Linked DNA regions of Homo sapiens. The protein of the gene in region 1 purifies or fractionates together with the protein of each later gene. This does not show direct contact. Each region holds a gene or a part of one and is shown on either strand. Other genes may lie near its edges.

What was found.
Region 2: the proteins of LTV1 (region 1) and PNO1 purify together in Homo sapiens (affinity purification with mass spectrometry; one large-scale study listed by BioGRID and IntAct). This does not show direct contact.

What each region holds. Positions count from the first base shown.
Region 1 is NC_000006.12:143,849,368-143,853,739, reverse strand, and holds part of LTV1 (protein LTV1 homolog), read right to left. Parts: intron 3,610-4,372; coding exon 3,522-3,609; intron 1-3,521. UniProt on the Homo sapiens protein: Essential for ribosome biogenesis.
Region 2 is NC_000002.12:68,164,388-68,168,323, reverse strand, and holds part of PNO1 (RNA-binding protein PNO1), read right to left. Parts: intron 3,387-3,936; coding exon of another isoform or gene 3,365-3,386; exon of another isoform or gene 2,450-3,364; intron 1-2,449. UniProt on the Homo sapiens protein: Part of the small subunit (SSU) processome, first precursor of the small eukaryotic ribosomal subunit.

The DNA.
Region 1 (4,372 bases):
CAAAAACCACATGATTATCTCAATAGATGCAGAAAAGGCCTTTGATAAAATTCAACACCCCTTCATGCTAAAAACTCTCAATAAACTAGGTATTGATGGAACATATCTCAAAATAATAAGAGCTATTTATGACAAACCCTCAGCCAATATCATACTGAATGGGCAAAAGCTGGAAGCATTCCCTTTGAAAACCGGCACAAGACAAGGATGCCCTCTCTCACCAATCCTATTCAACACAGTATTGGAAGTTCTGGCCAGGGCAATCAGGCAAGAGAAAGAAATAAAGCGTATTCCAATAGGAAGAGAGGAAGTCAAATTGTCTCTGTTTGCAGATTAACATCACTGTCTATTTAGAAAACCCCATCATCTCAGCCCAAAATCTCCTTAAGCTGATAAGCAACTTCAGCAAAGTCTCAGGATACAAAATCAATGTGCAAAAATCACAAGCATTCCTATATACCAATAATAGACAAACAGAGAGCCAAATTGTGAGGGAACTCCCATTCACAATTGCTACAAAGAGAATAAAATACCTAGGAATCCAACTTACAAGGGATGTGAAGGACCTCTTCAAGGAGAACTACAAACCACTGCTCAAAGAAATCAGAGGGGACACAAACAAATGGAAAAACATTCCATGCTCATGGATAGGAAGAATCAATATCATAAAAATGGCCATACTGCCCAAAGTAATTTACAAGATAATCCTAAGCAGAAAGAACAAAGCTGGAGGCATCACACTACCTGACTTCAAACTATACTACATGGCTACAGTAATCAAAACAGCATGGTACTGGTACCAAAACAGATATATAGACCAATGGAACAAAACAGAGGCCTCAGAAATAACACCACACATCTACAGCCATCTGATCTTTGACAATCCTAACAAAAACAAGCAATGGGGAAAGGATTCCGTATTTAATAAATGGCATTGGGAAAACTGGCTAGCCATATGCAGAAAACTGAAATTGGACCCCTTCTTTACACCTTATACAAAAATTAACTCAAGATGGATTAAAGACTTCAACGTAAGACCTAAAACCATAAAAACTCTAGAAGAAAACCTAAGCAATACCATTCAGGATATAGGCATGGGCAAAGACTTCTTGACTAAAACATCAAAAGCAATGTCAACAAAAGCCAAAATTGACAAATGGGATCTAATTAAATTAAAGAGCTTCTGCAGAGCAAAAGAAACTATCATCAGAGTCAACAGGCAACCCACACAATGGGAGAAAATTTTTGCAATCAATCCATCTGACAAAGGGCTAATATCCAGAATCTACAAAGAACTTAAATTTACAAGAAAAAAACAAACAACCCCATTGAAAAGTGGGCAAAAGATAGGAACAGATATTTCTCAAATGAAGACATTTATGCAGCCAACAAACATGAAAAAAAGCTCATCATCACTGGTCATTATAGAAATGCAAATTAAAACCACAATGAGAAACTATCTCACGCCAGTTAGAATGGCAATCATTAAAAAGTCAGGAAACAACAGATTCTGGAGAGGATGTGGAGAAATAGGAACGCTTTTATGTTGTTGTTGGGAGTGTAAATTAGTTCAACCATTGTGGAAGACAGTGTGGCGATTCCTCAAGGATCTAGAACCAGAAATACCATTTGACCCAGCAATCCCATTACTGGGTACATACCCAAAGGATAATAAATCATTCTACTATAAAGACACATGCACACGTAGGTTTATTGTAGCACTGTTCACAATAGCAAAGACTTGGAACCAACTTAAATGCCCATCAATGACAGACTGGATAAAGAAAATGTGGCACATATACACCATGGAATACTATGCAGCCATAAAAAAGGACACGTTCATGTCCTCTGCAGGGACATGGATGAAGCTGGAAACCATCACTCTCAGCAAACTAACACAGGAACAGAAAACCAAACACCGCATGTTCTCACTCATAAGTGGGAGTTGAACAATGAGAACATATGGACACAGGGAGGGGAACATCACACACTGGGGCCTGTTGGGGGATGGGGGCCTAGGGGAGGGATAGCATTAGGAGAAATGCCTAATGTAGATGATGGGTTGATGGGTGCAGCAAACCACCATGACGTGTATACCTACATAACAAACCTGCACATTCTGCATATATATCCCAGGACTTAAAGTATAATTTAAAAAAAAAAATGAAAAAAGAAATGATGCTTCTCCTTTTAATATCCACTGGTGAAAATAATGTTCCATTAAACATCTATAATGTTTAACTTTGTCTAGCATAATTCAAAGCTTTTGTCTGCAAGAAGAAACTGGCCTTTAAATTCACCTGTTAAAAATAACTCGAACAATTTTTAGACTGTTATACTTTCAGTATTTTCTGACTTTGCGATTTTAATAAATACCTACCTGTTTCTTCAGATATGTTCTTCCATCTATAAATATACTAGGCTGACTCTGGGCACACTGCTTAGGACTTAGCCCTGCTCCACAAGGAGCAGAAAATGAAAACAAAAAACTCAAGTTCATGAAAAACTTTCAACTCCAAATTTATCATCTGACATGGCCTCCAACACCCTCTGCTACATGGCCATTACTTAACCCTCCAGCCTCATTTCTTTTTAATCCATACCCTTCCTTCTGGGCAGGCTAAAATGTGTATAGTTACCTATATTCACGTTCTCTTGCCTTAGGACATACAGTCCTCTGTCTGGAACATCCTCTGGTCCCCACCCCTCCCCCTCCTTCTTCCACCTACCTAACTTTTACTTAAGAAACAAACTAGATATCACCTTCTTTAGAAAGCCTTGCCCAACCCTGTGATGCTGGGTTTGGTGCTACTCACCCCACTATTAATATCCATCTATACTGTAATTTATCATTTATTGTTTATTTTTCCCAAATGAGGTAAATTCTTGGGTCAGAGACTATGCTTTATTCTGTTTTAACCCAAGGCCCTGCCACACAGACAGTGGCAACTCAAAAATCTGTACAATAAATTAATTAATGAATGCCACAGGACAGGTGTTAGTTAATAATTAAGGCAACTTGGGAGAAAATACCAACACCACTTCTGTAGACTTTTGTGTTTGTTCTGAAATACAGTGTTGGTACTACAAATTAAAAATAAAAAATTTCCCCCAATATATGTGTAGATGGCAAAATGAACTTCCATAAAAATACCTGTATGCTCTGGGGAGAAATTCTGAAAAACAGATTATTTTTCAAAATTACACTACAAGTAATGAATAATTAATACCACTATCTTTGCAAGAGGTTATGTGAAGGTTACAATTCCCCTAACTAGATTACCAAGAATAGTTTCCCCACTTTCCTCTCCAAACAGGAACTCAAAAGATATAAAGATTTGATGGTAGGAATACAAAAATACAAAGATCACATTCATCCCTTCCTAATAATCCCTGATCTGAATTCCAGACATATCTCAATTGTTTCAATACTTTACTGGGGATAGAAAAATCCTACATCATTTCTTTATGTTTTGCAAAATACATTTATCCATATGAAAAGATAAAGCAATTAAAAATACCTGAAACTGGAGCTGCTTTATTTAACAATCCAACATCTTCCTCAAACTCTGAAGCAAACACTGATGAAGGCAACTTAATTCCAGTGCTCTTGAAAAAGAAATTGCACAATGGTTAGGTTTATTTGGAAATTCTTCTTAACTAGTGTACCGGGTTGAAGTCCCCCCCAAATCAATGTCCATCCAGAACCTTAGACTGACCATATTTGAAATAGGGTCCTCTCAACTATAATAAGATGAGGTCTTACTGGACCATGGTCCTATAACGAGACCACATGAAGACAGAGACTCACAGGGGAGAATGCCATGTGCAGATGACAGCAGACTGGAGTGAGGCCTCTATAAGGCAAGGAATTCCAAGGAATGATCACCGGTAACCTTCGGAAGTTAGGAATGAGCCATTCAACAGCCTCTCCCTCTAAGCCCCCAAGAAAAAAACCAAACCTGCTGATACCTTCATCTCAAACTTCTGACCTCCAGAACCATGAAGGAAGAAATTTCTGTTGTTTTAAGTCACCTAGTTTGTGGTAATTTGTTACTGCAGTCCTAGGAAACTATTACAACTACATTCTGTGTTCTCTCACCTGTGCTCCAGGTTGTATATATGTTAAACATGTATATTCCATCATAAACCCAAAAGTAACTCTCTATAATACATCACAATGCCTTCTCTAGCAAATTATTCCATTTATCCCTCAGATCCCATGAGGTATCACCATGTTTTACCAAAAGAACAAAAACTAGGAAAGTTTAAATGGCCCACCTGCCTGAGAATGATCAGTAAGTGAGATTCTGGGATTCAAATCCCAGAGTTTCTTAACTCCACTTGCCTGAAATTTCAAACCAAAATTAAA
Region 2 (3,936 bases), on another chromosome or scaffold:
GTCCCTATTTCATCTTGTAACATACAGGATCTAATTGTCAGGTATTTTAAATGTTAAGTCTCCACCCCAAAGCGACCAGGGGTTGTACATTTACTCGGTATACAAGCATTAGGACCCCTCTTATATTCAGAGCTCCTCCTATAACCTGTTAAATAAGTATACTTGGCCAACGCATTCAGCATAAATTCCTGTCTCATCCTTTCCTCCTTCAGAGTGCCTGCTTTTGGTCTCTGCTGAAGGCTATACTTTCCAGCCTGTCAGAATGGCCACCCTGCAGACTGCAACCCTTTCTAAGAAATAAAGTTTCCTCTCCAAATTTATAGATCTTGTGATTCTTTTCTTGACAATCTCAAATTGGAAATGCAGCTTTTATGTGGGTGCAGGATTGTTCTAAGAAAGACACATCTATAGAGTCTAATATGATGGAGAAAAAAATTAAGTCATTATATGACAACTTACAGCAAAAGGAAAATGAAGGATCTAAAGCTGGAGAACTTAACGCCAGCAAAGGATGCTTCGATAATGTTAGAAAGAGGTGGCTTTAAAAATGTCAGGGTAACAGGAGAAGCAGCTTCTGCTCACCAAAGGGCAGCAGACAAGTTCCCAGATGCCATTAAGAAAATCACTGAGGAGAAATAATATCTGCCTGAACAGGTTTTTTGTGCAGATGAAAAACGTCCTGTTCTGGAAAAAAATGTCACAAAGGGCAATTATTAGTAAAGAAGAGAAGCAAACACCAGGATTTAATGCAGGAAAGGATAGGCTATCTTTACTGTTTTGTGCAAATGCAGTCAGGTTTATGATCAGGACTGCCGTTATCTATAAAGCTGCTAACCCCGATCCTTGAAGGGAAAAGGTAAACACCAGTGGCCTGTCTTCTGGATGTACAAGAAGGCTTGCACAAGGAGAGCTCTTTTTCTGGATTGATTCCATTGATGCTTTTTCCCTGAAGTCAGGAAGTATCTTGCCAGTAAGGAATGCCTTTTAAAGCTCTTTTGATGTTGAGCAATGTCCCAGCCACCCAAGAACCCCATGAGTTCAATACCGAAAGGCAACAAAGTGGTCTCCTTGCACCCACTCTCTAATTCAGCCTCCAGAACAGGTAGTCATAAAGACCTTTAAGGTTCATTACACACACTACTCTATGGAAAATAGTGTCAATGCTATGGAAGAGAACTCGATGGAAAGAACATCATAAAAGTCTGGAAGGACCATGCCATTGAAGACACTGTCATTATTATGGAAAAAGCTGTGAAAGCCTCATGCCTGCAGCTATAAATTCCTGCTGGAGAAAACCATGTCCAGAGGTTTTGCATGACAGTACAGGATTTACGACAGAGCCAAACAAGAAATCATGAAAGAGACTGTGGATATGGCCAAAAGTGAGGGGTGAAGGGTTTCAAGATATGGATCACGGAGAAATCAAGAGCTAACAGACACTATGCCAGAGGAATTAACAGAAGACGACTTGATGGAGGTGAGTGCTTCTGAAGCAGTGCCGGGTGATGAGGAAGATGATGTAGAAGCAGCAGTGTCAGAAAACAAGGTGACATTAGACAATTTGGCAGAAGGTTTCTGATTATTCAAGATGCTTTTGACGTCTTTTATGACATAGACCCTTTTATGACGTGGGCACTGAAACTAAAAACTGTGGAAGAGGATTGGTACCCTACAGAAACATTTTTAGAGAAGTGAAAGGGCAAAAAAGTCAGAAATTACAATGTATTTCTGTAAAGTTCCAGAGTATGCTTGCCTCTCCTGCCTCGCCTTCCACATCTTCCTCCTCTGCCACCCATGAGACAGCAAGATTAACCCCTCTTCCTCGTCTTCCTTAGCTTATTCACCATGAAGACCTTTATGATAACCCACTTCCACTTAATGAAGAGTAGATAGATTTTCTCTTCCTTATAATTTTCTTAATAACATTTTTTCTCTAGCTTACTTTATGAAAGAGTACAGTATATAATACATATAACATACAAAATATGTGTTTATCAACTGTTTGTTATTGGTATAGCTTCCAGCCAAAAGCAGGAGTAGTTAAGTTTTGGGAGAGTCAAGTCATACATACATGGATTTTCAACCATGTTAGGGGTTCAGCATCCCTAATCCCTGCAATATTCAAGGGTCAACAGTATACCTGTGCAATGAAATAGTACTTGCCAATAAAAAGGAACTACTGATACACCCAACAAAATGGAGAAATCCAAAATAACATGCTAATTAAGAGAAGTCATACACCAAAGCCTACATACTGTGTATTTCCATTTATATGAATTTCTAGAAAATGCAAAATAAGAGTGACAGAAACAAGAGCAATGGTTGTCCCAGAAAAGGGTGGGGGCAGGCAACTGACCATAAAGATGCACGAGGGAACTTTCAGGGTAAGAGAACTGTATGAGTGTCATGGGACTACAATATACATTTGCCAAAAACTCATTGAACGGGATACTTAAAACAATAGAATTTTATTGTATGTAAATTATGCCACAATAAACTTCTAAAACGTTGGTTTAACTAGTAAATTTTAGGTTAACACTTACAAATATACTTATAAATTTACCAGTAATAAACTTAATGACAGACTATATAATTTCATTGGCAAATCAGTTAGTTTTAGATTTCTAAATTCTTTTTTTTTTTGAGACAGAGTCTCACTGTCGCCCAGGCTGGTTTCGAATTCCTAACCTCAGGTGATCCACCCGCCTTAGCCTCCCAAAGTGCTGAAATTACAGGTGTGAGGCACCATGCCCAGCCGTTTTTTTTTTTTTTTTTTTTGAGATGGAGTCTCACTCTGTCGCCCAGGCTGGAATGCAGTGGTGCAATCTTGACTCACTGCAGTCTCCGCCTCCCAGGTTCAAGCAATTCTCCTGCCTCAGTCTCCCAAGTAACTGGGATAACAGGCATGTGCCACCACACCCAGCTAGTTTTTTTTTTTTTGTTGTTTTTTTTTTTTTTTTGAGACGGAGTCTCGCTCTGTCGCCCAGGCTGGAGTGCAGTGGCGGGATCTCGGCTCACTGCAAGCTCCGCCTCCCGGGTTCACGCCATTCTCCTGCCTCAGCCTCCCAAGTAGCTGGGACTACAGGCGCCCGCCACTACGCCCGGCTAATTTTTTGTATTTTTAGTAGAGACAGGGTTTCACCGTTTTAGCCGGGATGGTCTCGATCTCCTGACCTCGTGATCCGCCCGCCTCGGCCTCCCAAAGTGCTGGGATTACAGGTGTGAGCCACCGTGCCGGGCCATGGATTTCTAAATTCATGAAAGCTTTCAGGGCTACTCAGCCAGTCCATGACTTGATGATTTAACCGAAGATTTTTTTTTGACTTTATAATTGCGCCAAAGTGGTACACACTCGGAATGCTCTTCAGTTTTCAAAGAGAAGTATCCTATGATATCAAATGAAGTATCAAATGAACTTCTGACTTATGAGATCATTAATTTACAACAGGTTTATCTGGACGTAACCCCACCATACGGTGAGGAGCATCTGTATATGGATTTTAAATTAATTAATTTTTTATTTTTTGGATACAAGGTTTCACTCTGTCACCCAGGCTAGAGTGCAGTGGTGCCATCATGGTTCACTGTGGTCTTGACATCCTTGGTTCAAGCAATCCTCCCACCTGAGCCTCCTGAGCAGCTAGGGCTACAGGTGTGCACAATCACACCTAATTTTTATATTTTTTGTAGAGATGGAGATCCCTATGTTGCCCAGGCTGGTCTTGAACTTCAGGGCTCAAGCATTCCTTCCTCCCACCTTGGCCTCCCAAAGTGCTGGGATTATGGGCATGATCCACTGCGCCCAGACTATATGTGGTATTTTTATTTTTATTTTGTTAGAGTCTCACTCTGTCGCCCAGGGTTGAGTACAGTGGCACGATCGTGGTTCCCTGCAGCTTCAACCTTCTGGGCTCAGGTGATCCTCCCACTTCGGCC